2 linked regions of the Homo sapiens genome follow. The protein of the gene in region 1 purifies or fractionates together with the protein of each later gene. This does not show direct contact. Each region holds a gene or a part of one and is shown on either strand. Other genes may lie near its edges.

Region 1 (4,390 bases):
TGCTAAGAGATTACAAGACATGTTGCAACCAATTTGGAAAACAGTTTGCCAGTTCCTCGAAAGGTTAAACAGTTGCCATATGACCCAGCAATTCCACTCTTCCTTATCTATCCAAGAGAAATGTAAACATAAGGCCCCCACACAAAAGCTTGTACCTGAATGGTCAGAGCAGCATTATTCATAATGGCTAAAAACTAGAAACACGCGAATGACCATCACTGATGAATGGAAAAACAAAATCTGGTATAGTCCCAGCTCCCAGGAGGGGCAGTATAGGTCTTTCATGGCGGTGTGGGCCTATCCCAGGAAAGGGAGGGGTGGAGTCAGACATACCTGGGGCAGATGTGAATCCAGAAGCACTGATACATGCTACAATGTGGATGAAACTTGAAAATGTTCAAGAGAAAGAATCCAGACATAAAAGGCCATATATTGTATAATTCCATTTATATGAAATATCCAGAAAAGGGACATCTATAGAAACAGGAAGCAGATTAGTGGTTGCCAGGGACTGGGGGAGCCAGGATGCGGAGTGACTGCTAATTGGTAGGAGTTTCTTTTTGGGGTGATGAAAATGTTCTAAAATTAGAATGTTGTGATGGCTGCACAACTCTGTAAATATGCTAAAAATCATTGTACACTTTAAACGTGAATTTATGGTATGTTTATGTTCCATAAAACTGCTGGGGAAAAGACTACAGGAGAAAGTAGGTAGAGCTTCGGGCGTGCGTGGCTCAGTAAACGCTGGTGATTATTAATAATTAGGTCTCACGAGGTAATTTAAAGCCCCAGAAGCAGTGAGTGCAATGGGACTGCCAGACTTCTGGCTCAGGCTGGGCCTTTAAGCCGCTCTGCGTCCCTGAACTCACTTGGGCCTCCTCAGAGTTCCTCATAAATGAATGGGGCAAACAATCCCTACCACGTCCTTGGGGTCTCGCAGGGAGCGGGGCTCAGGAGGCAGATGAGGAATCCATGGAGGAAGCCCTGGGCCTCCGGCTCGCGCTCTGCAGTAGGTGACAGGCCCCGCTTGGAGCCAACCCGGAAAGGCCCGAGCTCGTCCAGGTGAGTTCTTGTGATTGGCAGCCCGGAGGAGGGCGGGGAGGGCTGCGGTGACGGCTGCCCCGCCCCCTCACTTCGGGCTTGTTGGCGCCCGCCGGGGGAGGGTGGGCGGGGCCCGGGGTCCGCGGCGCCCATTGGGCGTGGGGGGAGAGCTCCGGGGTGGGCCTGGAGCCCCGCCCCCCGGCCTTGCGGCGGCCAATAGGCGCCGCGCGTGGGCGGGGCGTCGGCGGCAGCAGGGCGGCTGAGGTGGCCGCTGGAGCTCAGGCGGCGGGCGCGGCTGGGATGGCGAAGAGCAACGGAGAGAATGGGCCGCGCGCGCCCGCGGCCGGGGAAAGCCTGTCGGGAACCCGGGAGAGCCTGGCCCAGGGCCCCGACGCCGCAACCACCGACGAACTCAGCTCTCTCGGGTCTGACTCGGAGGCCAACGGCTTCGCCGAGCGCCGCATCGACAAGTTCGGCTTCATCGTGGGCTCGCAGGGCGCCGAGGGCGCGTGAGTAGCGCCGGGGGTCGGGACTGAGCGCGCCACCCACGCGAGGGGCCTCGACACGGACGGAGGCGCCCTCGGGACTTGCCGACACGTCCCCCTCCCAGGCAGGGACCACTAATCCCCGTTCCCTCCCCTGCCCCACCCCCACCACCCCTGCCTTCCTAGACCCGCCCCCTTCGCAGTCCTACTTCCGACCCAGGGGGCGGACGGGCCCACACCTCCACCCGCCACCTCCACCCTCCGGACAGACTGACCCGCTCCCAGGAAGGACCGACTGTGCCCTCCTTCCAGCCGTGGAACAGAATGACAGACTGCCCCAAACCCACCCCTGCCGCCAAGACCTTAGGGATGATTGTTTCTGCCACCCCGACAGGCTCCCAGATGGCTGGCGCCCCCCTCCATAGACACTCATTCTCCATCTTTCCCCCTCCCACAAACCCACAGACGCCCTTGTCTCCCCGCCTCACTGCCCCCACACCAGGAGACCTCAGACCGACTTCAGGACTGACTGCCCCGCCCCCACCCCTTCCCAGGACAGACTGACCCTTTCCTCGAGGCATACAGACCTCTGGATGGACAGACATTGGTCACCTCCCTCCCCTCAGCTCCATCCTGGGACAGACAGTCCCTTCTCCTCATGGAAGGGTCGGAGAAGGGCCCCCTATCCGCTCATACACAGCTTCCTCCACTGGCACTGGCAACAGGTGGGCAGGTACTCCCCCTTCCCAGCACGTACAGGGCGACAGGGAGCCCCACCACTAGGACAGACCATCAGCTCCAGCAGCCACAGGAGCCAGTAGATGGGCTCTGTGTATGTCCTGTGTATGTATGCGCCTCCTCCCAAGGGCAGATCTTGGGCGTGGGACGGGGGCAGGCAGGGAGACAGCAGGGTCCCTGCTCATATTAGCACCCCCCGATGTCCTATCCCGAGAGCACCCAGACACCCAGCTAGCAGACAGAGAAATGTGGGGCAGTGGAACAGCACCTTGCCTCCAAGCTGGGCCCCATGTTGCCCCACAGAATCCCCCGAGCCCAGGCCTCAGAGATCATGTGTACAGGCTGGCGGTCCCCTTAGGAAAGATGGACTCCATACCCCACTCCCATCCCAGCTGTCCTGTCACGTGAGACCAGTGTTGTGCACAGAACTGACAAGACTCCCTCCTGATGTGTGCTTTCCATCCCAATCACCAGTAGGAGCTCCTGGGGCCCTGCCATGACCCTACTCCAGAGAATATCCTTTCTCCCTTTCTCTGACCAATTGAGATTGTCCAAGGTCACCCCAGACTCTCTCATGACTTATGGAAGCGCTTTAACTGTCTAAGAACCCCTGTCACTTCCGGGATTTTCCCCAGCCCTAAAGCCTCTTATTCACCAGGCCTCCTTCTTCCTTGGAGAAATCCAGGCCCCTCCCCTAAGGGGAGTTCCCTCTCACCCACTGGATCTGTCTCCTCCAGTATCTCCCTACTGGCTCACAGCAGGCTAGGTTTAGTCCAGGACTCAGAGAGAGCACCCCTCATTCTGAACCCTCACCCTGACTGATGCTTTGTCACAGTTCCCCAGGGATTCACTTGTGAGAACTTAGTGGGGACCTGGAGTGTTTTGAATTGAGGAGCAGTCACCTGGGATTAGGACCCAGGGAGGTGTGTGGTCTTGAGATCTAGGAAAGGAGTTCCCAGTTGCATTTATGGGACCTTGGAAGGAAGAGCTCAGATTTGTGGGAGAATGCTAGGGCATGAGAGTTCCTACTACATGCTTATCAGGCAATCAACCAGATCTTGGGGTGCAGAGCAATGTGATATATTAGGAAAAGGCCAAACTTAGGAATTACACTTGCTAGCTTTGTGACCTTGGGCAAGATCCTGAATCTCTGAGCCTGTTTACTCACTGTAAAGGGCGACAGTAACACCCACTTCCCAACATTACTCTGGGGGTTAAATGAGTATATGATACGTGAAGGTGCCTGGCACAGCGCTTGTCACAAGTAGCGGCCCAGAAAATGTTAGTTTTCTTTCTTTCCTTCTAAGGGTCTGAGAAATGAAGAGAAAAATGAGGGCATATCTCTGGTATTTGTGGGCAGAGTGAGGCCCCAGTGGAAGCACCTCCCTTTGGCTGTAGTCCCCAACCAGGCAGCCAGACATCTGTCTTTCTTACCCCACAACCACAAACCCGGGATGTGGCTCTGCAGACACCCTCTACATGGCTGCTGTCTGTAGGGCTGGGGCTGAGGTGGGATCCCAGCTCCAGTCCTCTCTCCTTCCCTCACTTTCTGGAGCCTGTCAGTCAACCTAAAATCTCTGGTATCTGAAAGCTTCGATGTTCCCTACTTAATTTATATTGTGGTTTCAAAAAAGCCAAGAGTAAGTCCCTGCCCAAGGCCATAGAGGGGAAGTTATGGAAAGCTTCAGGGTGACCGCCCTGAACCCAGTCTCGTGGTTGAAGGCTAGGAGTCCATGTTCTATGCTAGAGAAGTGAAACGTTAGCCCTCATGGGTACTGTGGAGATGGTGGGGACTCTGACTCCAGATTAAAGGTCCATTTCAGCTACCCTGGGCCAAAGGTTGTCTTAAGACATTTTGGATGTGGAAGTTGCCAGGCCTGGGGGTAAGAAAGCAGGTCACAGGCTACCTTACTGAGGTGACTATTAGCTACATGGCATGAGTAGATTAAAAAAACCATAGACTGCACTGTAAGGGATCTTTTTTTTTTGAGACGGAGTCTCGCTCTGTCACCCAGGCTGGAGTGCAGTGGCGCAGTCTCAACTCACTGCAACATCTGCCTCCCGGGTTCAAGTGATTCTCCTGTCTCAGCCTCCTGAGTAGCTGGGAGGCAGAGATTGCACCCATC
Region 2 (3,809 bases), on another chromosome or scaffold:
GTCTCACCTGGGAACTTGCTCGAAAAGCAGAATCCTGACTCTACTCCACATGTACTGAGCCTGAATTGGCATTTGGACAAGATCCCTGGGGAGTTTAAAATTAAATTTTAACAGGTACGTTAAAGTCTGAGAAATGATGCTATGGATGACCACCATGCTGACCTCAGTGAGAAGCCACAGCCAGACAACGGGGAGACAGAAAAGTTATCTAACAAAGCAGACACAGGTCTGCCAACTACAGCAGGCTTGGGGCCACTTAACAAAGGGACAAGCAAATGAGCACAAGCCCATGGCCTGCAGTTGGGTGGCCACTGATGTACAGCACCCTTACAGAGCCCACATAGCTTATTTATTCAGAGTACAGATGAGGAAACTGAGGCACAGAGAGGTTCTGTGATCTGCTCAGAGCCACGCAGACACAAAGGGTGGAGCTGGGTTCAGCCTAGACCTGGGGGCCTCTGCTGCTGGTCCAGAGGCACAGATCCCCTGCTCGCCAGCAAGAGGTCCTGCACATACCCGGAGCTCTGGCATCTGGATGATGAGGCTCATGGGCACGTGGACGATGGGGCTCTTCCTGTAGTCCATTGGGACGAGGTTGGGGGCCAGCTCATAGAATCGCGAATGCAGCCTTGGAGGAAAGCAGAGAAAAAGCGCTGGAGGGGGTGCCATCCCTAAGCCCCAGCAGCCCGGTGCTGTCCTGCCTAGGCCTCTGCCTCTGCAGAACATCCTCAGCCAGGACCAGGTAAGGGGCCAATGGGAGGCTCTCTGCTCTGCCCACAGGGTGTGAAGTTGGGAGGGAGGTGAGTTCTGCCCAGACCTCTGTGCTGATAACCAGGTTGTGTCCAGGCCTCCCTATTTCCACCACACCCACCCCATCAGCACCACCACCATCACTCCTTGGGCCTGGGTCCAAATCTTTTAATTTTTTCTCCTTTGGGCTCTCATAAGGGTTTTCTATGCTCAGGATACTGTGCTAAGCACTTAACACATCACCTAATTTAATCCTCCTCCACATCACTGTGCAGACAGATGCATCCTGACCCCAGCTTACTGCTCAGCAAACAGGGCTGAAGAGGTTAAGAGTGATTTGTCTAAGGCCACATAACTAGGGAGCATCAAGGGCCATGGGTTGAGCCCAAGATGGGAAATCCAAGCAGAAACTCTTAGCCACTCTTCCCCCTTACACTCCTGAGGGTCCATCAAAGCCTGGGCCCACTTCGTGGCCCCACCACCCCAACTTAAGCCCTGAGGGTTGGGTCTCTCTGGGAGAGCTCTCAGCAGTCCTCACACCCTCAGGAAGCCCCTATGAATGGGTCACCCATAAACTCTCTAACTGGGGGCCATCGGGACCCAGGCTGCTACCCTGGTGGGCCTGGCCCTCCCTCCTCACTGATGGGTCAGGTCCCTAGCTCCTGTCCCAGCCTCCAGGAAATCAAGCCCACCTCAACAAGCTGCATGGACCCTCAAAGGTGTAAGGCATCCTGGCACTGTCTCACTTGGAAGCTCCCTTCCTCCCCGCCCCCTGCCCATTATTCAGTCTTTCTTTGCCCTATGTCCACTTGTCCAGGTCCCTGTCATCCCAGAGAATAGCCCCCCATCCCAAGACAGGTACAAATTGTATTTAGATGACATTGTGAGCTGCATGTGGTGGCCTATGCCTGTAAACCCAGTGTTTTGGGAGGCTGAGGTGGGAGGACCACTTGAGGCCCAGAGTTTGAGACCAGCCTAGGCAACACAGCAAGACCCTGTCTCTACAAAAATGAAAAAAAAATTAGCTGGATATCGTGGCTCAGTCATAGCTACTTGGGAGGCTGAGGCTGGAGGATCACTTGAGCTTGAGCCCAGGAGTTGGAGGCTGCAGTGAGCTATGATTGCCCCACTGCATTCCAGCCTGGGCAACAGAGCGAGACCCTGCCTCTAAAAACAAAAATTGTGTCCATTAAGTGCTGCCATGGGTGGGACAAGTGTAAGGGGCATTGACTGTGGGCTGAGGTAGGTAACCTGCCTAAAGTGATGTCCTAGGCTGCTGGTGAATGGATTAGGTATGACCCTGTATCTCCCAGGCTTGGGCCGGCCCTGCCACCCCCAAAGCCAGATCAGCCCAGGTCTCCTTTTAAGTGGCTTGACCCTGTGACACACCCCAGGCCCACCTTTATCAAGCCATTCAGCACAGCCACCCAACCTTCCTTGGGTTCTACCAGTTCTTGTGGTCCTGCTGCCTACTGTCCTTAGCAAGGCACCTGACTACTTACCCAGCTCAAACAGATAATAACACCAGCTATCGTTTAGCAAGTGCTTACTCTGTGCCAGGCCCTGAACTAATCTTCTCTGTGGATTGCTTTACTTATTTTAATCCCCAAATCACCCTGAGAGGTAGATATTAGTCTCCCATTTTCAGGTAGGGAAAACTGAGGCTCAAGAATCAAGTGTCTTCCCCATCCTACACAGCCAATGAGCAGTGGGAACAGGACTTGAACCCAGGACCTCTGGACACCAACCACTTGGCTCCTCCCTGCAAGTCAAGCCCTGGTAAGCACATCATCTGCTGGTTCAGAGCCTGTCCAGGGCAAATGAACAGTAAAATGCCACATGCCCACTTTGCCAGTCGCACATTCCTATAAAAGGGTCTGAAATTACAAGGATGTGCCATGACTTGGAGACAGAGCAGGAGGGGAAAACCCCTAAACTTGTACTTTGGGTGGGAGGAGGCTCAGCAAATGCCAGGGCGGTGGGATCAAGCTGAGACTCTCCACAAGAGGGCACTCAAGGACTTTCTTTGCTCCTATTTCTTGCATAGAGGAAAACTACTTTTTTTTTTTTACACTGTCCCCAAATAAGGAACAACCACTTGTTTCAAAATTCATGCATCTTCTTTCTTTCTTTCTTTCTTTTTTTTTTTTGAGACGGAGTCTCGCTCTGTCGCCCAGGCTAGAGTACAGTGGCGCGATCTCGGCTCACTGCAAGCTCCGCCTCCCGGGTTCAGGCCATTCTCCTGCCTCAGCCTCCTGAGTAGCTGGGACTACAGGCGCCTGCCACAATGCCCGGCACATTTTTTGTACTTTTAGTAGAGATGGGGTTTCACCGTGTTAGCCAGGATGGTCTCAATCTCCTGACCTCATGATCCGCCCACCTCGGCCTCCCAAAGTGCTGGGATTACAAGGCATCTTCTTTCATAATTCATGCATCTGGTACTTTGACATATCCATTGTGCTTCCAACTGCTACATTTCCCACTTGACCTTGACCCCACCTCATATGTGGCAGTGTGATGTTGGAGTGTTTCTAGGGGTTGGCCTACACCTCTGAAGTTTTGTGGGATGGCTGCAGCAGGAGCATGAAGTCAGGCTGAGGTTGGAGCCCTGCCTACACCTCTCATTAGCAGTGTGGGTAAGTGGGTTAATCCACTGAAGGATAAGTTTCTCTATCAGTAAAGCAGGGGCTATTCTACTGTTCTCACCCCTGGATGTTCATAAAACCACTGGCCTTCAACTGGCAGCTTTTAGCATGCTGCCTGCCACGTCAGAGGCTCCCTGGAAGGGGTGGACTAGGGAGAGAGGCTATGGGTGCTTGGCAGGGTTGAGGAGGTATCCTCTGGGGTGGGAAGGCCAGCTTCTACCCTGGGACACAGATCTGTTCTAAAACAGTAACTAAAATCACATTGGAATTTTTCTTTAAAGAAAAATCCAAGGAGAATTTGAAAACCCAAATCACTGTGAAAGAAACTCTAAGCATTGTCAAAGAACCACATCTCTGTCACCTCTCCCCCAATAAAGGGCACTGAATTCAAGAAGAGTTATATATTAGTCCTAC

What was found.
Region 2: the proteins of TBC1D10A (region 1) and CIB2 purify together in Homo sapiens (co-immunoprecipitation; one large-scale study listed by IntAct). This does not show direct contact.

What each region holds. Positions count from the first base shown.
Region 1 is NC_000022.11:30,323,833-30,328,222, reverse strand, and holds the start of TBC1D10A (TBC1 domain family member 10A), read left to right. Parts: upstream 1-1,281; 5' UTR 1,282-1,341; coding exon 1,342-1,550; intron 1,551-4,390.
Region 2 is NC_000015.10:78,110,649-78,114,457, forward strand, and holds part of CIB2 (calcium and integrin-binding family member 2), read right to left. Parts: intron 629-3,809; coding exon 517-628; intron 1-516. UniProt on the Homo sapiens protein: Calcium- and integrin-binding protein that plays a role in intracellular calcium homeostasis. Acts as an auxiliary subunit of the sensory mechanoelectrical transduction (MET) channel in hair cells.